Homo sapiens: one gene and its partners. The protein of the gene in region 2 interacts with the protein of the main gene of each other region in a pairwise test. Each region holds a gene or a part of one and is shown on either strand. Other genes may lie near its edges.

Evidence for each region.
Region 1: the proteins of MPP1 (region 2) and ACER1 interact in binary tests that used the Homo sapiens proteins (3 or more experiments, as listed by UniProt).
Region 3: the proteins of MPP1 (region 2) and AGPAT3 interact in binary tests that used the Homo sapiens proteins (3 or more experiments, as listed by UniProt).
Region 4: the proteins of MPP1 (region 2) and DGAT2L6 interact in binary tests that used the Homo sapiens proteins (3 or more experiments, as listed by UniProt).

Annotation. Positions count from the first base shown.
Region 1 is NC_000019.10:6,330,610-6,338,432, forward strand, and holds the start of ACER1 (alkaline ceramidase 1), read right to left. Parts: upstream 3,004-7,823; 5' UTR 2,943-3,003; coding exon 2,850-2,942; intron 1-2,849. UniProt on the Homo sapiens protein: Endoplasmic reticulum ceramidase that catalyzes the hydrolysis of ceramides into sphingosine and free fatty acids at alkaline pH.
Region 2 is NC_000023.11:154,778,184-154,781,519, forward strand, and holds the end of MPP1 (55 kDa erythrocyte membrane protein), read right to left. Parts: intron 3,131-3,336; coding exon 3,056-3,130; intron 1,171-3,055; coding exon 994-1,170; 3' UTR 501-993; downstream 1-500. UniProt on the Homo sapiens protein: Essential regulator of neutrophil polarity. Regulates neutrophil polarization by regulating AKT1 phosphorylation through a mechanism that is independent of PIK3CG activity.
Region 3 is NC_000021.9:43,861,281-43,868,251, reverse strand, and holds the start of AGPAT3 (1-acyl-sn-glycerol-3-phosphate acyltransferase gamma), read right to left. Parts: upstream 3,030-6,971; 5' UTR 2,907-3,029; exon of another isoform or gene 1,587-2,906; intron 1,114-1,586; exon of another isoform or gene 930-1,113; coding exon of another isoform or gene 906-929; intron 1-905. UniProt on the Homo sapiens protein: Converts 1-acyl-sn-glycerol-3-phosphate (lysophosphatidic acid or LPA) into 1,2-diacyl-sn-glycerol-3-phosphate (phosphatidic acid or PA) by incorporating an acyl moiety at the sn-2 position of the glycerol backbone.
Region 4 is NC_000023.11:70,194,467-70,201,500, reverse strand, and holds part of DGAT2L6 (diacylglycerol O-acyltransferase 2-like protein 6), read right to left. Parts: intron 2,231-7,034; coding exon 2,120-2,230; intron 1,690-2,119; coding exon 1,619-1,689; intron 1,247-1,618; coding exon 1,042-1,246; intron 1-1,041. UniProt on the Homo sapiens protein: Diglyceride acyltransferase that uses fatty acyl-CoA as substrate. Particularly active with oleate as a substrate. Has no wax synthase activity to produce wax esters.

The DNA of each region.
Region 1 (7,823 bases), on a different chromosome or scaffold from region 2:
CTCTCAGTGCCTTCTGCAAGGGCTCTCATCTGGGTGCAGGATGAAAACAGAACACTGGACCACAGTGGCTGCTGGGGATTCCAGAGAGAAGAGCTCTAGAGCCCTTACCCATCATCTCAGCCTCGTAGGACCAATCATTCAGCTCCCTCCCATGTTAGAGGTGGGACTACTGAGGACCGGGAACCATATCTCTGGCTAAGGAAGAGCAAGAATCAGTGAGACCGTGAGGATCCTGGAGTCTCATAATCCCACTTCCCAGGTATGGGAAGCCCCGGGGTGAAAGGCAACAGGGTCAGAGCAACCTGAGCCTCGGACTCTCCTCCCAGAAAAGTCTCCTGGACTCACCAAGTTTAAATCCTGGCTCTAATAACCAGGGTGACCCTGGGCACAGCCTTCAAACTCCTTGAACACCTGTTTTATCACCTGGAAAATGGGATGAAGTCTGTATCATATAGATTGCATCTAACTCCCCATGTCACTGTGCAGATTAAAGGAGGTGTTTCACGTAAAATGTTTAGGGTCATGCCTGGTACACAGCAAGCACTTTTTTTTTTTTTTTGAGATGAGGTCTCGCTCTGTCACCAGGCTGGAGTGCAGTGACACAATCTTGGCTCACTGCAACCTCTGCCTCCCGGGTTCAAGTGATTCTCCTGCCTTAGCCTCCTGAGTAGCTGGGACTACAGGCGCCCGGCACCATGCCTGGCTAATTTTTTGTATTTTTAGCACAGACGGCATTTCACCACGTTGGCCAGGATGGTCTTGACCTCTTGACCTCATGATCCACCCCCCTCGGCCTCCCAAAGTGCTGGGATTACAGGCGTGAGCCATAGCACCCAGCCAGCAAGCACTCTTCTGCTCACTGAGCAAGGCCTATGTGCAGGGCATAGAACTAAGCACTACGAGGCCGGGCGCCGTGGCTCACGCCTGTAATCCCAGCACTTTGGGAGGCTGAGGTGGGCGGATCACCTGAGGTCGGGAGTTCAAGACCAGCCTGGCCAACATGGTGAAACCCTGTCTCTACTAAAAATACAAAAATTAGCCAGGCGTGGTGGTGGGAACCTGTTATCCCAACTACTCGGGAAGCTGAGGCAGCAGAATGGCTTGAACGCGGGAGGCAGAGGTTGCAGTGAGCCGAGATCGCGCCATTACATTCCAGCCTAGGTGACAAAGCGAGACTCCGTTTCAAAACAAACAAACAAACAAACAAAAGAACTAAGCACTATGCCTGGATCCCATCATTCCCAGGGCTCCAGGCAAACACCTCTGTGTTCCCAGCACCCAGTATGGGCATGGCATAGCTGCACTGATCTTTGGCTTTAAGCTTTGGCTAAATGCCGTGATCATTTGTGCATTCCTATTTTTTTTTTTTTTTTTGAGACGAAGTCTCGCTCTTGTCCCTCAGGCTGGAGTGCAATGGTGCGATCTCGGCTCATTGAAACCTCCGCCTCCTGGGTTCAAGCCATTCTCTTGCCTCAGCCTCCCAAGCAGCTGGGATTACAGGTGCCTGCCACCAAACCTGGCTAATTTTTGTATTTTTAGTAGAGATGGGGTTTCACCATGTTGGCCAGGCTGGTCTCGAACTCCTGACCTCAGGTGATCCACTCACCTTGGCCTCGCAAAGTGCTGTGATTACAGGCGTGAGCCTCCGCGCCCGGCCTTTTTTTTTTTTTTTTTTTTTTGAGACAGGGTCTCCCTCTGTCACCCAGGCTGGAGTGCAGTGGTATGACCTCAGCTCACTGCATCCTCCACTTCTTGGGTTCAAGAAATCCTCCCCCCTCAGCCTCCCAAGTAGCTGGAACTACAAGCACACACCACCACACCCAGCTAATTTTTAAAAACTTTTTGTAGAGACAGGGTCTTGCTATGTTGCCCAGGCTGGTCTGGAACTCCTGGGCTCAAGCGATCTTCCTGCCTCTGCGTTCCAAATTGCTGGGGTTACAGGCATGAGCCATGGTGCTAGGTACATCCATGATTTTTTAGCACTTCCCATGTGGTGTTTTAACAGGGAAAGAGAAGACCACCTCAGAATGTCCAGAACTGAGGAGTTTCTCAGGAGGTGGGACTTTTTTTCTTCTTTTTTTGAGACAGTCTCGCTTTTTCACCCAGGCTGGAGTGCAGTGGCACAATCTCAGCTCACTGCAACCTCCGCCTCCTGGGTTCAAGCGATTCTCATGCCGTAGCCTCCTGAGTAGCTTGGACTACAGATGCCTGACACCGTACCCAGCTAATTTTTTATTTTAGTAGAGATGGGCTTTCACCACGTTGCCCAGGGCGATCTCCAACTCCTGAGCTCAGGCAATCCACCCACCTTGGCCTTCCAAAGTGCTAGGATTACAGACGTGAGCCACCGCGCCCAGCCAAGAGGTGAAACTTTTTAAATACTGAAACCAGGATAGTCCCAGGCACACTGGGACAAGTTGGTCAGTGGGTACAGCTGCAAACAAGACAGACACAATCACCTCTTCCAGGAAGCCTTTCCTGATTGGCCCACCCCCTCTAGCTCAGGGGCACCCTCTGCCTCCCCCTACCACAGCTGCCTCTGTGCCCTCCAAGAAGGCACCATCGCTCCCGGTTGCAAATGCCTGCAGTCACATCAGAGTTAGCTTAGGGAAGGCAGAGACCGGTTCTTTTCCTGGCCACCAATGTGTCTCCAAAACCTACCACAGAGCTTGGCATCAAGTAAAGACAAGTAAATGAATGAAAGCTGGCACTCTTTGGCTAACAGATGAGAAAACTAGGGCTGAGACAGGTGAACCACTCCAGCAAGATTCCCCAGTAAGGCTGTATGGGGAGGAACCGGGATTCGAACCGGCATCTGGCGAGACTCCTTCACACACCCACGCACTCACCGTGTTGTAGAACTCGGCCACCAGCTCCGAGTACTGGAAGTTGCTCTCACACCAGTCCACCTCGGAGCTCTGATAGGCGAAGATGCTAGGCATCTTGTCTCAGTGGCCACCACCAGCCGGCTGCGCCCGGCAGAGAGAAGGCGAGCTTGGGAAGGCTGGGCCCTGATGAGGCGGGGAGAGGACAGCCCGGTGCCCCGCGGCAGGCAGACTGGGAGGAAAAACCTGCTGGGCCGCTCCCCAGTTGCACCAGGGCAGCCTGGCTGTGCAGTGACAGCAGCCCTGAGCATAAGCCGTGGGACTGGCACTGTCCAGGCAGGGCAGGGGGCAGAAGTAGGCAGGGAAGAGGCCTCCCATCCAGATTACCCAGGAATAGGAATCGGGGTGGGGGCAGTGGAGGGAACTGTTTTTATCTTTTATGTATGTATGTATTTATTTATTAGAGTCAGGGCCTTGCTCTGTTGCTCAGGCTGGGGTACAGTGGCATCATCATAGCTCACCGCAGCCTCAAACTCCCAGGCTCAAGCAATACTCCTGCCTCAGCCTCTGAAGTAGCCAGGACCACAGGCACATGCTGCCACCATGCCTAGCTAATTGTTTTTTTTTTTGGAGACAGAGTCGCTCTGTTGCCCAGGCTGGAGTGCAGTGGCATGATCTCAGCTCACTGCAAGCTCTGCCTCCCGTGTTCACGCCATTCTCCCGCCTCAGCCTCCCGAGTAGCTGGGACTACAGGCGCCCACCGCCACGACCGGCTAATTTTTTGTATTTTTAATAGAGATGGAGTTTCACTGTGTTAGCCAGGATGGTCTCGATCTCCTGACCTCGTGATCCACCTGCCTTGGCCTCCCAAAGTGCTGGGATTATAGGTGTGCGTGAGCCACCGTGCCCGGCCTTTTTTTTTAAAATTGAGATGCAGTCTGGCTCTGTCACCCAGGCTGGAGTGTAGTGGCGCAATGTCAGCTCACTGCAACCTCCACCTCCTGGGTTCAAGCGATTCTCCTACCTCAGCCTCCCAAGTAGCTGGGATGACTGGCACCTGCCACCATGCCCAGCTAATTTTTTTTGTATTTTAGTAGAGATAGGATTTCACCATGTTGGTCAAGCTGGTCTCGAACTCCTGACCTCAGGTGATCTGCCCACCTTGGCCTCCCAAGGTGCCGGGATTATACGCATGAGCCACCTCACCTGGCCTGAGTTCCTCTACTTTAAGCTGTGTGACCTTGGGCAAGTGAATTTACCTCTCTGATCCTCTGTTTGCTCACCTGTCATATGGAGACGATGGTGACAGAGCCAACTGTAACAAAGGAAGACAGAGATAAAGCATGTACAAAGGCTTAGCCCACTGCCTATGCTAGAGTAGGCACTTGATGGATGGTAATGGGTTTTCTTTTTTTTTTTGAGATGGAGTCTTGCTCTGTCCCAAAGTGCTGGGATTACAGGGTTTTCTTACTGAAGCTGACCTTGAACTTTAAGTCAACTTTGTGGGAATAATAATAATTATTATTATTATAATAAAAGAGCCTGGCCTTAGCAAGCGGTTAGCAAGTGTGCATAACAATAATAATATAATTATTTATTATATAATAGCAATATTATATTAAAATATAAAATTATTATATTAAAAATACTATTGTTATATAATATTTTAAATATTTTAGTATATTATTTTAATGTGATTAATATAATTTAATATAATAATTAATATTATATATTATATAATTTTTCTTTTTTTAAGTGCTTGATTTTCAGTATTATCTCATTTAACGTTCTTTTTTTTTTTTTTTTTTGAGATGGAGCCTCACTCTGTCTCCCAGGCTGGAGTGCAGTGGCATGATCTTGGCTCACTGCAACCTCCACCTCCCTAGTTCAAGCAATTCTCCTGCCTCAGCCTCCTGAGTAACTGGGACTACAGGCACCTGCCACCATGCCCAGCTAATTTTTGTATTTTTAGTAGAGACGGGGTTTCACCATATTGACCAGGCTGGCCTCAAACTCCTGACCTTGTGATCTGCCCGTCTCGACTTCCCAAAGTGCTGGGATTACAGGCGTGAGCCACTGTGCCCGGCCTTCATTTAATGTTCTTAACAATCCTACCCCGGGTGCTGTGGCTCACGCCTGTAATCCTAGTGCTTTGGGAGACCAAGGCGGGAGGATCACAAGGTCAGGAGATTGAGACCATCCTGGCTAACACAGTGAAACCCCATTTCTACTAAAAATACAAAAAAGGTAGCTGGGCGTGATGGTGGGTGCCCATAGTCCCAGCTACTCAGGAGGCTGAGGCAGGAGAATGGCATGAACCCAGGAGACGGAGCTTGCAGCGAGCCAAAATTGCACCACTGCACTCCAGCCTGGGTGACAGAGAAAGACTCTGTCTAAAAAAAAAAGAAAAAATCCTAAGCGCCAGGAACTATTGTTATCCCTTTTCTTTTTCTTTTTTTTCTTTTTCTTTTCTTTTTTTTTTTGAAATAGAGTTTCACTCTTGTCACCCAGGCTGGAGTGCAATGGCATGATCTCAGCTCACTGCAACCTCTGCCTCCCAGGTTCCAGCGATTCCCCTGCCTCAGCCTCCCAAGTAGCTGGATTTACAGGCACCCGCCAGCATGCCCGGCTAATTTTTGTATTTTTAGTAGAGACGGGGTTTCACCATGTTGGCCAGGCTAGTCTCGAACTCGTGACTTCTGGTGATCCACCTGTCTCGGCTTCCCAAAGTGCTGGGATTACAGGCTTGAGCCACTGTGCCTGGCCTCTTTTTCTCTTTTGAGACAGGGTCTTGCTCTGTTGCCCAAGCTGGAGTGCAGTGGCGCAATCATAGTTCAATGCAGCCTTGCTTGATCTCCTGAGCTCATGCGATCCTATCTCCTGCTAGTAATCACTAGCAAGGAAACTAAAGCCCAGAGAAGTTAAGGAACTTACCATAGGTCACACAGTTAGGAAGTGATAGAGACAGGCAAGGAACACCACCTCTATGATGCCTCAGTTTCCTCACCTGTAAGGTGGTGAAAATGATAATGGTACTGCCCTCTCAAGCCTGTTGTGAAGAGTTAGTGAGCTGACACGATGTTTCCATAAAAAGATAAATTGTGGGCTGGGCACGGTGGCTCATGCCTGTAATCCCAGCACTTTAGGAAGCCAAGGCAGGCGGATCACGAGGTCAGGAGATCAAGACCATCCTGGTTAACATGGTGAAACCCCGTCTCTACTAAAAATATAAAAACCTAGCCAGGCATGGTGGCGGGCGCCTGTAGTCCCAGCTACTTGGGAGGCTGAGGCAGGAAAATCGCTTGAACCTGGGAGGTGGAGGTAGTAGTGAGCCGAGATCACGCCACTGCACTTCAGCCCGGGCGACAGATCGAGACCCCGACTCAAAAAAAAAAAAAAAAAAGAAAAAGAAAGATAAATTGTGGTGCTATGTTGCCCTGCATTCCAAATCACTGAACTGGCCGGGCATGGTGGCTCACCCCTGTAATCCCAGCACTCTGGGAGGCTGAGGCAGGTGGAGCACTTGAGGTCAGGAGTTCAAGACTAGCCTGGCCAAAATGGTGAAACCCCGTCTCTACTAAAAATACAAAAATTAGCCTGGTGTGGTGGCACGCGCCTGTAATCTCAGCTACTCAGGAGACTGAGGCAGGAGAATAGCTTGAACCCAGAAAACGGAGGTTGCAGTGAGCCGAGATTGCACCACTGCACTCCAGCCTGGGCGACAGGGTGAGACTCCCTCTCAAAAAAAAAAAAAAAATCACTGTGGTGTCTGAAAGTAATCAACTTTTTCAATTTCCAATATTTGGAGAAGAGAGGCTCAGTCAGTGCTAATATGTTCTATGTCTCTTAACACTTAATGACTTTGACAAAAAAGAAAAGAAAAGCCCTTCATTAGGCAACAATATTCTGTTAGAATTTAGTAACATGATTTGTTTACATTGTATTTATTTTTTGATAAGCTTGTATTCATGGTAAGCCAAATCTACTTTCCATTCACGGTAGGGTTACAAAGTTTCCTTTTTTTTTCTTTTTTTTTTTGAGATGGCGTTTGCTCTGTCCCCCAGGCTGGAGTGCAATGGCATGATCTCGGCTCACTGCAACCTCCACCTCCCAGGTTCAAACGATTCTCTTGCCTGAGCCTTCTGAGTAGCTGGGATTACAGGCGTGGACCACCCTGCCTGGCCAAAGTTTTCTTTTTCTTTTTCTTTTCTTTTCTTTCTTTCTTTCTTTTTTTTTTTTTTTTTTTTTTTTTTTTTTTTGAGATGGAGTCTTGCTCTGTCGCCCAGGCTGGAGTGCAGTGGCTCGATCTTGGCTCACTGCAAGCTCCGCCTCCTGGGTTCATGCCATTCTCCTGCCTCAGCCTCCCGAGTAGCTGGGACTGCAGGCACCCACCACCAACGCCTGGCTAATTTTTTTGTATTTTTAGTAGGGACAGGGTTTCACCATGTTAGCCAGGATGGTCTCGATCTCCCGACCTCGTGATCCACCCACCTCGGCCTCCCAAAGTGCTGGGACTACAGGCGTGAGCCACCGCGCCCAGCCCCAGAATTTTCTTTTTAAAATAATATTTTGGCCCAGTGCAGTGGCTTACACCTCTAATTCCACCGCTGCACTCTAACCTGGGCAAAAAGAGGGAAACCCTGTCTCAAAAAAAAATAGTTAATTAAATAAAATAAAAATAAAATAATAAAATAAATATGTATTTTTTAAGAGATGGAGTCTTGCTCCGTTTCCTAGGCTGGAGGGCAGTGGTAAAATCCTAGCTCACAGCAATGTCAATTTCCTGGGCTCAAGCAATCTTCTCACCTTCGCCTCCCAAGTTGCTGGGAGTACAGGTATGAGCTACTGTGCCCTGGCCAAAATAAATGTAAGTGTTACAATTGTGGTTGTGTTTGCACAGATCTATACATGTGATATTATTGCATAGATTTGCTCCCATTTTTCTGAGAAAATGAAAAGAAAATTGTCTAACACATGAATGCATGGGAAAAGCTGTTG
Region 2 (3,336 bases):
GCTGAGGCAGGAGAATCCCCTGGAACCTGGGAGGTGGAGGTTGCAGTGAGCCGAGATCCTGCCACTGCACTCCAGCCTGGCAAAACAGACTGTCTCAAAAAAAAAAAAAAAAAAAAAAAAAAAAAAGCGCTCTTGGATGCAGCGAGGCGAGGCCCTGAGCTGTAGCCATATCATGAGCCAGGCATGCAGGGTGGGCCCCAGCCCTGGCTCAGCGACCGGCCTCCACTGTACCACGGGACCCCAGGCTTGGATTTTCTCTCGTTCTAAATATGTGCCCACAATGAGCGCTCCACTAGCTACAACAACCTTAAGGGTGTTTTTCTACATGGGCACTAGCCAGTAGAGCCCTGCAGTGGGGGCAGAGAATGGGGACTCTTCCAGGGCACCAGTGTTTATCATCTGAACACAAGAGAGGCATCTTGTGTTAATGCTGTTGTCCAGGAGCTTAAGTGAAATGGGCCACATTTCTTTTTGTGTGGAAACCCAGAGTTACAAGGTCATTGGCATTTCAACACAGCATTTTTATTGCTTTTGAAGGTTTCCCTAGAGCAGACATCATTCTATTGCACAGATGTGTCATTTTGGCATTATAGAAAGTTGCAGTTAAAAACGCTTTCTCCAAAATAAAAAGACAAATGAAATACCCAGCATATACAGTTGAAGGCAAAGGAGGGCAGGCTTTAGAGGGATGGGGTCCATTGCTTTTGCTGTGCATCACCCTTGATTAGCAGTTACATTTTGGTAGTACTTCTTACCCCCAATTTCTAGAAATCCTTTTCAAATCCAGATCAGTGGGGCCCCATCTATCAGGAGAATCAACCCTTCAGGAGCCTGAGCAAGAAGACTGAACCTTACTGGCTGAATTAGGATAGCTGCAGAGAGCTGGAAGCTGACACAAAACTAGTTGGAGCAGCCCTGTTTGTCTTAAAGCAAGGCGGGTGGAATTCCAAATGCTGGAGAGGGGCATACAGTGGGTTCCCCCATTCTACAAGCTTAGTAAACCCAGGAGACAGGCACCCACTGTGGAGAACTGCACGCTTGGTCGAAGGCTTCTTGTAATTTCTTAAGGGTTTCATCAACACCATTATTGACCAGTGAGAGGTCAAAGTAGTGAGCGTACTGGCTGCGGATGGCCTCAGAGTCCTTCTGCAGCTGCTGCAGGGCTTCTGTCTGCAAAGAAGAAAGCCACAGATGAAGCAAGCTGCACCACCCCCAGCCCAGAGAGGCCAGTGACAGATTTTAAACAGCAATTGTTAGCGTTGCTCAGCTGTGCATCATACTTGACGAGTCAAATTCAGAAGACATTGTGAAAGAATGTTAATGTAGGGCATGAAGAGGCAATCTCAAAAGACCATGGCAATTCTCAGAGGATCTCAAGCTAACCCTGACTAATCAGAGTCCTCTGGAGGACCAATAGCTATGCAGAGACAGCATGGACTTCACCAGCATCTCCCACTTAATGCCCTTTGAACATGGAAGAGCCATTTCAACAACCACCAGAGCTGCAATCCTAAAACGAAGATAAAGGTGATTTTGTTGTTTTGTTTTGTTTTGAGACAGTGTCTTGCTCTGTGGCCCAGGCTGGAGTGCAGTGGCACAATCTCGGCTCACTGCAACCTCCGCCTCCCGGGTTCAAGCAATTCTCGTGTCTCAGCCTCCCGAGTAGCTGGGATTACAGGCATGCGCCACCACATCTGGCTAATTTTTGTATTTTTAGTAGAGACAGGGTTTTGCCATGTTGGCCAGGCTGGTCTGGAACTTTAGACCTCAGGTGATCCGCCCGCCTCGGCCTCTCAAAGTGCTGGGATTACAGGTGTGAGCCACTGCACCCAGTCAGATAAAGGTGACTTCTAATCCCAGATCACACCTGTAATCCCAGCACTTTGGAAGGCCAAGGCAGGATGATTGCTTGAGCACAGGAGTTCAAGACCAGCCTGGCAACACAGTGAGACCCCATTTCTACAAAAAACAAAATTTAAAAATGTGTGTGTATATATATCTCAGGACTCTGTCTTTGACCTAAAACCAAGCAGCCATGAAAGACAAATCATGTAACTACATAAAAGTAAAAATGTCTGCATAGCAAAAAGACATGCCAAATTGGAAAAAAATTGCAGCTGATATTACAAAGGGCTAATTACCCTAATATAGACTTCCTATAAATCAAAGGTCAATAACTCAGCAGAAAAATGAGCTAAGGGTATGACCAGATAATTCTCAGAAAAGGCAATACAAATTGCTCTTCATATGAAAAAGTACCTGATCATCTCTTTTAGTAAAAAAGAAATATGAGATACTATTTTTCCCTCCAGTAGACTGGCAAAAAAAGAAAATTTTGACAACATGCTGCAGGCAAAGAGAAACAAGCAGTCTCACAGGTGGTTGGCGGTCCCTGTCCAAATTCTAAGTGTGTGTGCTCTTGGACCCAGTGATCCTACTTGGAGTTTTTCCTACAGATATATTTGCACACATGTGCTATATGCACAGGGCTATTGACTGCAGTATTACACATGCATGCAGCAGAAGACCAAGCAGCTATAGAGAAAAAGAGTTCCTCACACCCTGATAGGGAAAGGTGTCCATTGTTCAATGCAAAAGCACAGTGCAGCAAAGTGCATGGGTAGGGCTGGGCAGAGGAGCAGGGTAGGCTTTTTGATATATTCCTGGCCTCTCTGTCTTTCCCCACAGCCATACTGCACCCCAGGGCGGGTTCAGTGCCACCTCTGTCCATCACAGCTTCCCCTGCCAGAGCCTGCATCCCACCAGTATCAGGATCTGCTCAACTGTCCATCTCTGCCCCTGGAACTGTGTGCCTCCAGGACGATGACTGGGTCTGGTTTGTTTTGTCCCTGTTAGGTAGCATGGGCACTGGCCTAGCTAGTGGCTTAAGAGCTGGAACGAATGTGCATACCCTTTGGCTTCTTGGCCCTGGAGGAAGAAGCCCAGCTGGAGCTGTGACCTCCAGCCAGCACTCTGGCCAATGACCTGGACTGAGGTCCCAGTATGGGCAGGCCCGGAGAAAGTGAACTACCCATCGCGCACAACCTCTCCTCACCTGAGTGCCCTGGTCAGTAGGTGCAATGAACACAATGAAAGGCGAAAGTTCTGCTGTCCGAACAATTTTCAGGGTCTAGAAAAAAAAAAGAAGGGCGGCGGGGAGGGGGGGGAAGGAAGAAAAGGAAAGTGAAAAAAAAAAACCTACATAGCTGTCATAATGGATTCCTTCTAATAAGCAGCTTTGAGCTTTACCCCAATACAACTTTCCATCATTCCCAGTACTACTGTTCTTGTTCCAGGCTGACCCCATTAAAAGGCTGAAGCAATCCTGAGCCCCCA
Region 3 (6,971 bases), on a different chromosome or scaffold from region 2:
ACCCCAGCATCCATGCACCCTAATAGCCAGGTACAGACTTTGGCCCTGCAGAAAGAATGGCCAACTTTCACCATCAACTCGGCCTTCCCGCCTCCAAAACTAAACACAGACACTGCCCCAAGGTTATGAGACTGCCTGTCTCCTGCACTTTGCTTGACAAAGATAATCAAAACATGGCCGCTTGTAAATGACTACATGAAAGCCTGTCAGAAGGTGAACGATTAATGCACTTGCCTAAAATGCAGCGCTTTGAAATTGGTAATTTAGAATCAATCTTGAAATTATGATGAAGTGGTTTTAGGAAGGACAGACGCCTCGTGGTCATGTTACTTTACCACTTGAAACGACCCGTTTAAAACCCCAAACACTCTTCGGTTAACCAAAAGTAAATTCCCATGAAATTTCTGAGCAACTGTCTTTAGAAAACTCAGTCCAACTTTACTGTAACAAAAATCTTGCAATGAGATGGAGCAGCTAAAGATCTCACATTAAACAAGTCATTAAAAAGGAAACAGTCAAATGTAGCCAATCACGTCCCACGCTGCGATCTAGAAACACCAGTCCACCGGCGATACCTTATAACAGGGACATCACAAGAGTTTTTGACAAGGCCAGAGAGGGGGGGCAAAGCGTGGAAGCAGAAGCCATTGAATTTACCAGAGGTGGGTTTTGATGGTGACAACGGGCCTGCACTGGCTCTTCAGTGCCAAGCACTAGGGGCTCTGCCGTGGGGTCTGCAATGTGAGAGCCTAAGCGGGGCTGAAGATTGATGAACAGGGTAAATGTGATTGGGCAAGTTAAGGACACCCCTCCTCCAAAGGAATCCAGGAAATCAGGCTCTTCTCAAACACACATTCTGATCTTCCCCTTCCCTGTTTAGGAGAATTCCAACATTTCCCACCTACCTCTGATTTGACCAGGGATAGCATCCGTGGACTTTCAGCACCCGGACGGGTCTGTGGAGGTGGGAGTTCCAGGGATGTAAGCCTAAAGGCGGCCCTGCCGTTCCGTGACACAACCTCGGGCAAGTAACTCAAGCCCTGTTGTGTCAGATCACTTGTTTACGAGGTCAAAGTGCGGAGGGGATGGGAGGCAGGTGTATCAGTCACGTGTCTACGGCAGGGACGGAACAGATTACTTTGGTGAATGCTCTTTTTCTAATTTCCAAAATAAAGCCATTACTTTCAGTTTGCTTCCCCAGTCCTGGCACACAGACGCGCGTCCAGGCGCAGGGTGTAGCTCCCCAGCGTGGAGTCTGCACTGGGGCCCCAGCCTGGGGCGGGGCAGCACCCTCCCTCCAGGAAGGCCTGTTCTAGAATCCACACTCCTGGGGACTTTCCCACCCGGCCACACTGCCTTTAACCCAGCAGTCTTCAGGCTGCTGCAGCGCGTCCCCCTGGCAGATACGCCAGGACAGGGCCACGCACAGGTAGGGTGACCACAGAGGGCGGCCACTCCATGAAGTCACCTTCAGAATATTTAAGGCCCCTACACCTTCTAAGGCCAAGGGGCCCTGTTCTGTCTGAATGTCAATGGCATGCAGCTGCTTTTTAGACAATGTCCTCAAGAAGATACTTAAGACTAACCAGAAATGGATACAAGAAGCGAGTTGTAACAGGCACAGGCTAACGCCGAACTCTGTGGGGGAGGAGGATTGGTTGGAAAGAGGGAGGGGGGGCGGCAAAGAAGTGGCCAAATCAAGAGAGTGCTCAGCATCCTCGGGAGACCCCTCTGAAGCTTTCAAACTGAGAAGACGAAGTTCAGCAATTCCTAAGCGAGTCGAGTCGGAGCAGCCGCGCCTGCAATTTAAAAGCTGCAGGATCCTGGGTCCCTCTAGCAGCCTGGGCCCGCCGCCCGCCCCACCTCCCAGCCCCCAGCAGGCTCTCGGCGTTGGCTTTCATTTTTAATAAGAGCCGCATGCTCATCACCCTCTGTCTGGAGGCCAACAGCCCACATCTTTCTTCTACTAAGATCATGTTTCCCAGGAAAAAGAACCCAACTGCTCAAGTATTCTCCTAGACAAAGCTTTTAAAATTGTGCTTTTTTTTTTTTAAAGGTCTGGGAAGCCATTTATAAAAGCATTTTCCCCATGTCACTAAACTTCTCTCAAAGTTAAAAAAAAAAAAAAAAACACTGCACCATTTTTAACTGCCTTCAAATACTAATAACCCTCCTTTCCTAAGTACTTGGGACCAATGTTCCAAGGGTCCTGGGGTGGCCAGGAGTGGGTTTTCGCCCCCACGGCTCTTGCCCCCGGACTGACCCCATCCCCTGACCCGCCCGGTGCAAACGCGCCGCCGGTCTCCGGGCCGAACCCACAGCCAACCCCGGGCCCCGCAGCCCTCCCCGCGCGGAGCGGCAAAAGTGAAACTGCTCCCTTGGCCTGGGCGCGCGAGGAGGAGGCCCCTGGGGGGGGTCCCGGGTCCGCCGCGCCCCGAAACCAGGCGGCGGGCGCGTCCTGTCCACGGGGGAGCCGAGCGGGGCCCGGAGCAGAGTCCAGGACGGAGGGATGGGACGTCCCCGCGGGAACCCACTCGCCCTCCCTCGGCCCGGCCCGGGCCCCTCCCGGGCGCCCCGAACCCCCGGGCCTCCCCGCTGGGCCCAGCGCCACCGAGGCTGCTGCGGGAAGCGGCCGGGGCCTCGCGCTGGACCAGGCCGCCGGGGAGGCCGGGGTTGCGGGGGGCGCACAGGACCCGGGCCCAGACCTCCTCCCGGCCCCGCGCCTTCCCAGGCCCCGCGCCCCGCGGAGCGCGGCCGGCCCATTGCGGCGCGGGGCCCCGGGCGGCCCGAGGTCGGACGGCTGGGGCAGGGGCGACCTCCGGCGGCGGGAGGGCGACCTCGGGCGGCGGCGGGGCGTGGGGGAAGAGGGGGGCGGCCCGACCTCGGGTGGGGGCCTCGGTGCTCACCTGCAGCCGCCGCCACCTGCTCGTCGCGCGGGCGTCCCCGGCGTCGCCTCCGCGGCCCCGCTCTGGCCGCCGCGCTCCTCGGCCCTGGGCCCGGCCCGGCCCTGCGTCGGGGCCTCAGCGAGTGCGGCGCCCGCCGCCCCCGGCCCCCATCCCGCCGCCCTCCGCCCTCCGCCCTCGGCCGCGCCGCCGCCGCCACTTCCTGTGCGCGGCGATCCCACAGTTCCGCCGGCGCGCGCGGGGCGGCCGAGGGACACGCTGGGGGGACACGGGGGAAGGACGCGGGGGGGGACGCGGGGGGACGGCGCGGGGGGGGACGCGGAGGGGACACGGGGGCGACACGGCGGGACACGCGCGCGGAGAGAGGTGTGGGCCGAGGGCGCCGGCGGGGCCGGGCGCGGAGCCTGCGTGGGATCCGCTAACGGACGGGGCTGGGGCCCGGGCTGGGGGAGGGGGCGGGCCGGGACCGCGGGGGGCGCGGGGATCAGGGGGGTCGGGGCTGAACGGGGGGAGGCGGCGAAGGACCAGGCTGGGGTCCCGCGAGGGCTCCCCCGGACCGGGTCGGGGGCAGAGGGGGCCGGGGCGCGGGGTGGGGCCGGGAGGGGCCTCCGAGCTCTGCCTGGGCCCCGCCATCTCCCCTGCCGGGGTCTCCTGCGGGCGCCGGGGAAGTTTCGCGCGCGAGCTCCTGCCCTGGTCGGCCGGGGCTTAGGGTCGCCGTCAGGGGTCGCCGCGCGGCGGGCTCGGTGGGGACGGCCCTGCGCGCAGCGGCTCCGCGGAAGGATCGCGTTTCGGCCCACGTGCCGCGCCCTTGGACTTATTCATAGTTGGCACCCGGCTGGCAACACTGTATCGACACTTGACCGTGGCGGGGGTGGGGGTCGCCCCGGGGCTGCCCTGCGAACCCCCGCGGGCGCTGACGCCGTCCCCTCCAGACCGCGGAGCCCTCTCAGCCCCAGGACAGCGGCTGCCGTCCCCCCTCCCTTGCACCTGGCCAGCGGCCGATCCCAGAACCTGCGGAGGCCGCGCAGGTGCCGCTGTCAGGGCAGGGCCCGCTGCGGGCTCCGCCTCCTGCGCCCGGTACCTTGTGTGACCTGGCGCCTGCTCAGGTCCTCAGGCCCCGGCTGGACTTGCTGAGCTTGGGTGGGCTTCATTTGAAAACCATTTAAAATACCAAGTACTGGTACTGTCTACTGTGCCCCTTTTTTTCCTTTTTTTTTTTTTTATTTTTATTATTATTGAGACAGGGTCTTGCTCTGTCGCCCACCCTGGAGTGCAGTGGTACAATCATAGCTCGCTGAAGCCTTGAACTCCAGGGCTCAAGTGATCCTCCCACCTCAGCCTCCCAAGTAGCTGGGACCACAGGCACACACCACCATGTCTGGCTAATTTAAAAAAAATTTTTTTTGTAGAAATGGGGCCTCACGGTGTTGCCCAGGCTGATCTCGAACTCCTGAGCTCAAGTATTCTCCCACCTCCTCCTCTCAAAGTGCTGGGATTACAAGTATGAGCCCCCGCACCCAGCTTGCACCTCCCTTTAAGCCTCCTCAAATTATTTCAGAAAATACTTAGACTAAAATAAAATGAAAGTACCGTGCACCTGTCCTACTCACAGTTCCCTTATTCTTGAAAAAGGAGTTAAGATTTGCAAAGCTCGTGGAATTCACCATTTGTAAAACCTCTCACCCCTCATGTCATTTTGGGTAATCTGTGCCACAGATAAATTCTCACAGGCACCACGGGATGTGTGGATACAGGGATGTGCTGACTTACAGCTATACCTATAATCACAGGAAGCCTGAGAACAACCAGACACTTGGTTAAATAAACTCTAGAACATTCATTTAGCATTTTTAATTTAAAACATTTTCTAAAGTTGTGATGTGATAATTCTGTGTACACAGATAGGATATAGTCTCCAAGATCTGTTAAATTAAAAAATAAAAATAGTGCAGAGCAGTGAATATACAATGATGTGCTTTATTTAAAACAAACAAACAAACAAAAAATGGCCAGGCACGGTGGCTCACACCTGTCTGTAATCCCAGCACTTTGGGAGGCTGAGGCTGGTGGATCACGAGGTCAGGAGTTCAAGACTAGACTGGCCAAGATGGTGAAACCCCGTATCTACTAAAAATACAAAAAAAAAATTAGCCTGGCGTGGTGCAGGCGCCTGTAATCCCAGCTACTCGGGAGGCTAAGGCAGAGAACTGCTTGAACCTGGGAGGCAGAGGTTGCAGTGAGTCAAGATTGTGCCACTGCACTCCAGCCTAGGTGACACAGTGAGACTCTATCTCAAAAAAAAAAAAAAAAAAAAAGACCAGATGCAGTGGCTCACACCTGTAATCCCAGCACTTTGGGAGGCCAAGGCGGGTGGATCACTTGAGGTCGGGGGTTCCAGACCAGCCATGGTGAAACTCCACCTCTGCTAAAACAAGATACAAAAATTAGCTGGGCGTGCTGGTGCTCTCTTGTAATCCTAGTTACTCAGAAGGCTGAGACAGAAGAATTGCTTGAACCCGGGAGGCAGAGGTTGCAGTGAGCTGAGATCTAGCCATTGCACTCTGGCCTGGGCGACAGAGCGAGACTCTGTCTCAAAACAAACAAACAAATAAAAAAAAAAAAAAAACAGAAAACAACATAGGCAGATACAAGTCCAGAAGGCTCTGTGAAGATATGATAGTGAATGGGCAAGGGTAAAGAAATTTTATTACAATAAAATTTCTATGTATGTTAGGTAGTAATGTTTAGATTTATCATAAGCACACATTTTATAATTTATATATTTTATAATTTATTATTACTATTAGAAAAAGGGTGTCCCCCCGTCACCCAGGCTAGGAGTGCAGTGGTATGATCATAGCTCACTGCAGGATCCCTGAAGGGATCCTCCCACCTCAGCCTCTCAAATAGCTAGGGCTATAAGCATGCACCACCACGCCCAGCTATTTATTTATTTATTATTTATTTAGTAAAGATGGGGTCTCATTCTGTTACCCAGGCCACTCTCAGACTCCTGGCTTCAACGATCCTCTCACCTTGGCCTCCCAAAATGCCAGGATTAGAGGCATGAGCCACCCAGCTCTGCATACTTATTAAAAATGAATTATGATGTACCTCTTCATTTAAACATTGGATGGCTCCTTCAGCCTCACTTTGAGCTTTTAGATGAGCCCCAAATATTATGTTTGTCTCACTGGTGTAAAACTTCACTGACAGACCAGCCTGGGCAACAAAATTAAAATTAGCTGGGTGTGGTCCAGCACACCTGTAGTCTCAGCTACTCAGGAGGCTTAGGTGGGAGTCGAGGCTGCAGTGAGCCATGAACGTGCCCCCTGCACTCCAGCCTGGATGACAGAGACAGACCCTTTCTTCATTAGAATCTGTGATCACTGAGACCTGAGTCGAGCCCCTGGAGAGCCGCAGGTGCGCAGACACTCAGAGAAGCATTTGAAGGGAACTGGAAGTCAGCCACCCACCCTCAACTGTTTACAGGGTTCCAGTGTGCAGGTGCTCAGATTGGCAGGAAACGTCATCGCTAACCTTTGTTGAGCCCTTGTTATGTGTGTAGATTAGTTCATTAACCAAAACCAGGCCACAAGGTAGAGACGACTGACACCCCATTTTACCTTTAAGGAAACTGAGGCATAACAAACCTCCCTACCTTATCCGCCAGCACACAGGGCAGCAGAGGCAGGCAGCCCGGCTCTAGGCCCTGATGCAGCCACAGCGCAGCAGCTTCTCCTGACCCGGTAATGGGGTTGGTTATTAAGAAAGAGACTCGTGGTGAGCCAAGATCATGCCATTGCACTCCTGCCTGGGCAACAGAGTGAGACTGGATTGGATCTCAAAAAAAAAAAAAAGAGAGAGACTCAGATCCTCAGCCTCCTCAATGAAAAACTGGGGGCAAAGGGAGATTCTGACCTTGAGTAGTATTTGTCCAGAGAGGGGATTTTTGCTAGGAATGAAAAGAAGAAAAGTAGTTTTTTTGTTTATTTGTTTGTTTGAGACAGAGACTTGCTCTGTCGCCCAGGCTGGAGTGCAGTGGCACGATCTTGGCTCACTGCAGCC
Region 4 (7,034 bases), about 85 Mb from region 2:
ATCGAGACTAGCCACCACCAACCTGCTTCCTCCCTAAGAGTAACCTGCCAAAGGGAAGCCAATGGCTGGGGTTTCTGGAGAGTAGGCAGACCCCTGAGCCTGACCAAGCCAAACTGAAACGTAGATGAATAATGGAATGTGAATGACACCCTGTTGTTTAACAACAATCATCTAGCCTTTCTCACTTCTGTCTCCCATCTTTGCCCTGCGCTCACCTTCTATTGTCTACTGTGATGGCAGAAATTGCCTCCAGACTCTAGCCATTGAGAAGTATTCCTGCTCCAGGGCCATGCTAACCTCAGAGCAGAGTAGAAGCATCCTCTGGGACTCTAGTGGTCCCACCTGGCCCCTCCACAGAAATGTATCTTACCTTTGGATGTTTGGCTTCAGTTGTTTTCTGGTGTCCAGAAGGATGACTATTTGTCCAGAGAGAGAGACATTTGTCACAGTGCCCTGACTTGAAGCTGAGCATGGGGAAGTTGTTCTGGATACTCTGATGAACTCCTATCCTTTATCCCTTAGTATTTTATGCAAGTGTGAAGGGGTTCCAGGGAGATAAAAGTCATGGACCAGGAGGGTTTTAGCTAGTATGATAGACTTCAAAATGTTTTTAAGACACCATGGTGTACAAATGACCGGCCCAAAGAGGCCAGCTGACATCCTAGAGAGAGCCTGGTGAAGTTCGCCTGAGCTATCCCATTCACACCTGCTTTTCCCTGGATTTGTGTTTAATTCTTGGCTTTCATCCTCGATTTGCACTTTGGCATTGGTCCTGAATTCCAGCCTTCTGGTTCTCCCTCTGAAAAAAGTCCTGGTGACTCCTATGAATGCCTATAATTTCCCCTGCTGCCCAATCAAACCCTGCTCCCTAGATCTTGGACAGAAACTAATGCTTAGCCACATACTCCTGTTACGGGCCCAGGGTGTCCTGGACTTATTTTCTATCATGTACTCTTCAAGCAGGTAGTGATTGTCAGGACTTATTGGGGTTGCACCTTTGAAGTAGGTAAAAAAATAGAATTAATTATTTCTTATACTCACCCATTGACATCACATATTCTCGCACAATTGGGATCCAAAATATCCTTTCTAAGGTCCCTACAAAGGGAGTGATGGATGGGAAAATCCGAGCAATGCCAGTGGCCTCAGTGGCAAAGTTGATGAAGACACCAAAAGAGAGAATGCCATGGGGGTGATTGGCAATGATGTAGTTGTGTTTGGGAGAAAGATCATGAGTCTTCACCAGCTGTTAGAGGGAAATTGAGTCAGAGCATTGGCTACAAAGAAGGAAGAAACCACGTGTGGACTAAAATCCCAGCAGGTAGCCTATGTTTCCCTCTGGGAGCCCCAAATCCCTGTTCACTAGGTTGTCATCATTGTCATAGGATTGCCAGGGCTCACGATGGTCAGAGAGGCTGACCTGGGTTTGCCAGTGAAGGAAAGGCTGCCATCCACCTGTTTCCCCACCTGCCCATCCATCTTGGGCCCTTGCTTTGCATTATGACTCGGGGCCTTGACCTTCGCTGCTGACCACCAAAGCCTCTGAAAACATGGAGCTGAGTAGGGAGCAAGGGTCTGGGCAACAGGGACTGAGGGCACCCCGAGGAAGAGTGGTCACCTTTACTGGGAAGTAATTTCGGAAATACTTCCATAGGGTCCAGTTTCGTACCCAAGCTGAACGCCTGCCACCTGTGGGTACAGAAGGGAAGGGAAGAGTACACAGGGCATTGCAGTCCCTCTACCTCTCCCAGAGGAGGAGAGTTCTGCCTGCAGTCCTCAGGTCACGTGAGGGGCCTCCTTCTGACACCTCAGAACTGTAAGTACTGTCCCTGAATCCAATCCCCAAGACATAGGAAGCCCCTGCTCCTCTAGAGCCGACCAGAAAGGTGACAGGAAAATAGTCTGAAGCTGGGGGCACCTGCCCAGAGACCTCAACCTCATAATTCTTCCTGAGCTACCTGGTAGAGACCTCTGTCCCTGCTGAGCTTTGCTCTCCCTTCTCCCTCCCCTTCCTTCCCCTCTCCCCTACCCTTGGTTCTCCCCCTCTCCCTCCACCTCCCTCTCCCTGTCCTTCCATTCTTGGCCCAAACAGGACCACCATTGTGCCCCTGTCTCTTACCTTGACTGTGGGTGTTCCAATCATAGGTGAGCCAGGCTAAGGAGAGCACAGCCAAGGGCCAGAACTTACTGAATAACAGAAAGTAGGGTATAAGGAGAATGGGAATAGCTCCTGGGGAGACACAAAGGGTTCAAGCCTTTCAGTTCCCTTCAAGTTTTAGTATACTTCTCATAACCCCGGCCTCTGCTCTACACTACAGGAGCAGGGCTAGGCTGATGTGGGACTCTTCTCTCCTTCTCCCCTCTTCCCCAACCCCTCGCCCTCCATTTGTCTCTGCTGTGGTCTAGGCAGGCCTCTGAAGCCCCTGGATCTGGGTCTCCTTGATGGCCAAACTCTCAATTGAAGAAAGAGCAGAACCATGAAGTTGAGGTCAAAGGACAGCACGGCTTGGTGAATGGGAAGAAGAGCACATTGGGCTGGTAGCTGAATCCCCATTCTGGGACCTCTGGAAATTCTTTCTAAAAGCTTGACCCTCTTTCCTGTGCTGAACTGATAAGTCTGCATATTCCAGCAGGGAGGTTACCCGCAGTGTACAGGCTGTTTGATGCTGAAAAGTAAACACGGATTAAAAACCACTCCACTTTGGGAGGCCGAGGCAGGCAGATCACGAGGTCAGGAGATCGAGACCATCCTGGCTAACACGGTGAAACCCCATCTCTACTAAAGATACAAAAAATTAGCCGGGCATGGTGGCACATGATTGGAGTGCTACTCGGGAGGTGGAGGCAGGAGAATCGCTTGAACCCAGGAGGTGGAGGTTGCAGTGAGCTGAGATCGTGCCATTGCACTCCAGCCTGGGCAACAGAGCAAGACTCCGTCTTGAAAAAACAAAACAAAACAAAACAAACAACAACAACAACAACAAAACTGCCCTACTAGGCCAGGTGCGGTGGCTCACTCCTATAATCTTAGCAATTTGGGAGGCCAAAGTGAGAGGACAGCTTGAACCTAGGAGTTTGAGACCAGCCTGGGCAACAAAGCAAGACAGTATCTCTAAAAAACCAAAAAAACAAAAAACAAAACAACAACAACAAAAAACACTTTACTGTGTTCATTTTGTTCCATTCAAAAGTATCACAAAGGTTCAGAAGGGGAAGTCTGTGTTAGCAAATGGCCATAGCAGGCTGTAACTGCAAACACGATACATGTTACAGCAGTGCGAATGAATTCCATTTAAAAAATCTGCATTCATGAGAAAGAGGGGCTAAGTATACATATGGTGAATAAAAAAAGACTTAGCTAAGGGAATGACTTCTTTGACCAGGTACCATGTCATAGCAGATAAAAGTTTCAGGGAAGAAGAAACTCGGGAGTTACCTACCAGTTCTTTGTCTCTTGCATTTTGGACATAAATGAAAATAGCAGGAAAAAGGCTGAGTGGACAGTGCTTTAAAAAGTCATGTTATGGAGTAGAAGAAACCTTTGTAATAGGCTGAATTGCCCTCATAAGCACTGGTCGAGATAGTTGTTGTAAGCATTCAAATTAGACAGGAAAGCGTGGTGGGAGGAGTTTTATGGGAAGCCTGCCATGGAGAAAAAGCCTTGCTATCTATGCCCTTCATCAAAGAGGAGAGTAAATTTGCCAGTTAAGCTTCAGAAGGAAATTCAGATAAAGTTAAATAAGAATAATCACTAATTAAAGTTAGCCTAAGTGTATCATTTCTTTTATATTTTGTTTCAAATAAATTTTGTTTGTTTCCCCAGTATTTAGAAGAGAGCTTGGCACACAGTAGGTGTTCAACAAATATCTGTAGACCAATTGAAAACGAAATAAGCAAATGTTTTCTCTTTTCAGTAGTAAACTTGATAATTACTATTTAGTCAGCATGTATAGTGTTATTTAAATGTGATGTTATTTTAAAAGCATAGACGGATTAGTTGTGTGCCTTTTATCTGATTCATTCATCCACCAGTCCTAAAGGCGGTCTAAGAGCCCTTACCTGGGTAACACCATCCCCCTTGTGGAACCTATTGGAACTGCAGATATGACCCGGCAGGAGACGAGGAACGTTTTTTTCAGAGCAAGGCTTCCAGACCCAGCCCGAGTGTCATCAGTGTCGTGCACGGTAACAAAAGTGGAATTTAAAGATATAGGAGAAATAGAAGCCAAATGTGGAAGAGCTAAGTCTCATGTAAAAAGAGTTCCGTGACATAAAGCAAGGGTATCTGAAGAAGGAATGATGAAGAACAAGCATTTATGTATGTGTGACACTCCCTTAGGTATTATGGCCTTGACACCAGAAGATGGTTCCAATTTCTCTTGTCACGTTCAAGTGAGGCGTCTTGGAGAGGGTTATCAAAGAGGAAGTTCACATAGGTAGGCTCCTAATTTAGTTTGTAGTGAAGATGGCCAAGCCATTCTAATATATGTGCACTGGGGGAAAAGAAAAGAAAAAAAAAGAAGAAAAAAAAACTAATATATGCGCATTGGTAGCTCATCATAATTTTAACTTGCATTTCTCCAATAGCTAGTGATGCGTAACAGCTTTTCATGTGCTTGTCTGCTTTCTGTATATCCTCTTTGGTGAAGTGTCCATTCAAATCTTTTGCCCATTTTTCAATTGGGTTGTTTTCTTACTGTTGACTTTCGGTAGTTCTTTATGCATTTTGGATATAAGTTTTTTTGTCTGATATGTGATTTGCAAACATTTTCTCCTAATCTGTGTCTATCTTTTCATTCTTGTTAACAGGGTCCTTTTTACAGCAAAAGCTTTTAATATTGATGAAGCCCAACTTATTAATTTTTTTTCTTTTATAGATTGTGCTTTTGGTGTCAAACTGAAAGAACTCTTTGTCTAACCTCATGTCATGAAGATTTTTCCCCTATATTTTCTTTTCTTTTCTTTCTTTCTTTTTTCTTTTTTTTTCTTTTTTCTTTCTTTTTTTTTTTTTTTTGAGACAGGATCTGGTTCTGTCACCCAGACTGGCGTTCCATGGCGTGATCTCGGCTCAACTCACTGCAACCTCCGCTTCCTGGGCTCAAGCGATCCCCCCACTTCAGCCTCCAGAGTGGCTGGGACTACAGGAGCATGCCACCACACCCAGCCAATTTATTTTGTATTTTTTTGTAGAGACAGGGTCTTGCTATGTTGCCCTGGCTAGTTTCAAACTCCAGGTCTCAAGTGGTCCTCCTGCCTTAGCCTCCCAAAGTGCTGGGATTACAGGTGTGAGCCACTGCCCCTGACCTCCCCTGTGTTTTCTACTAAACATTTTACAGTTTTCTTTTTTTACATTTAGATCTACAATACACTTCAAGTTCATTTTTACCAGTTTTATGGAGGTATAATTTACAAATAAAAATGGTGTATATTCAATGTGCACAATGTGATGATTTGAGACAGGTATACATTGTGTGATGATTACAACAATCAAATTAATCAATACATTCACCACCATACATAGTTACCCTTTGTGTGTGTTTGTGGCTAGAGGTGAGGATACTTAAGATCCACTCAGCAAATTTCAAGCATATAATACAGTATTATTAATGCTGCTATACTTTAGATTCCCAGAAATTATTCTTTTTGTAACTGAAATTTTGTGCCCTTTGACAAATTTTTCCTTATTTTCCCTCTGCCCCAGCTCCTGGCAGCCACCATTCTATTCTCTGCTTCTATGAATTTAATTTACATTTATTTACAAATATATATATTTAGAGACAGGTTCTCTCTGTGCTGCCCAAGCTGGTCTCAAATTCCTGAGCTGAAGTGATGCTCCCACCTCAGCCTCCTGAGTAGCTAGGATTACAAACATGTGACACCACATCCAGCTCTAATGAGATCATATGGTATTTTTCTTTCTGTGTCTAGCTTATTTCACTTAGCATAGTATCCTCCTGGTTCATCCATGTTATTGCAAATGGCAGGATCTCCTTTTTATGGCTGAATAATATTCGTGTGTGTGTGTGTGTGTGTGTGACACTTTCTTTATTCATTCATCTGCCAGTGGACACTTAGGTCGATCCCACGTCTTGGCTATTACTAATAATACTGCAGTGAACATGGGGGTGCAGATATTTCTTCAAGACACTAATTTCATTACTGTTGGAAACTCCCCACTATTTTCCATACTGGTTGTAACAATTTACATACCTACCAACAGTGTACAAAGATTCCCTTTTATCTATATCCTCACCAAAACTTACCATTTGTCTTTTTGATAATAGCTATCCTAACAGGTGTAAGGTGATATCTCACTGTGGTTTTGATTTGCAGCTCCCTGATGACTAATAATGTTGAGCCCCTTTTCATATACCCTTTGGCTATTTGTATGTTTTCTTTGGAAAAATGTCTATTCAAGTCCTTTGCCTATTAAAAAGTTTATGTTATTTTATTTTTTTCTATTGAGTGGTATGAGTTCTTTATATATTTTAGAGATTAACCCCTTATAAGAGATATGGTTTGCAAATATTTTCTTCCATTCTGTGGGTTGCCTTTTCATTTTGTTGATTGTTTCCTTGGCTAGGCAGAAGATTTTTAGTTTGAGGTACTCCTGCTTGTTTATTTTTGCTTTTGTTGCCTGTGCTTTTGTTGTCATATCCAAAAAATCATTGTCAAGGCCAATGTCAAGGAGCTTTTTCCCTATATTTTCTTTTAGGAGTTTAGTGATTTCAGGTCTTACATTTAAGTCTTTAATCCATTTTGAGTTAATGTTTGTGTATGTCATAAGGTAAGAGTCTAGTTTCATTATTTTGCATGAGGATGTCTAGTTCAACACCATTTATTGAAGAAACTATCCTTTTCCCATTGTGTATTCTTGGGACCCATTTCAAAGATTAGTTGACTATAAATGCATGGGATTATTTCTGGGCTATCTATCTTATTTCATTGGTTTCTGTGTCTGTTTTTATGTCAGTACCATAGTGTTTTGATTACTATGGCTTTGTAATATAGTTTGAAATCAGGAAGTGTGATGC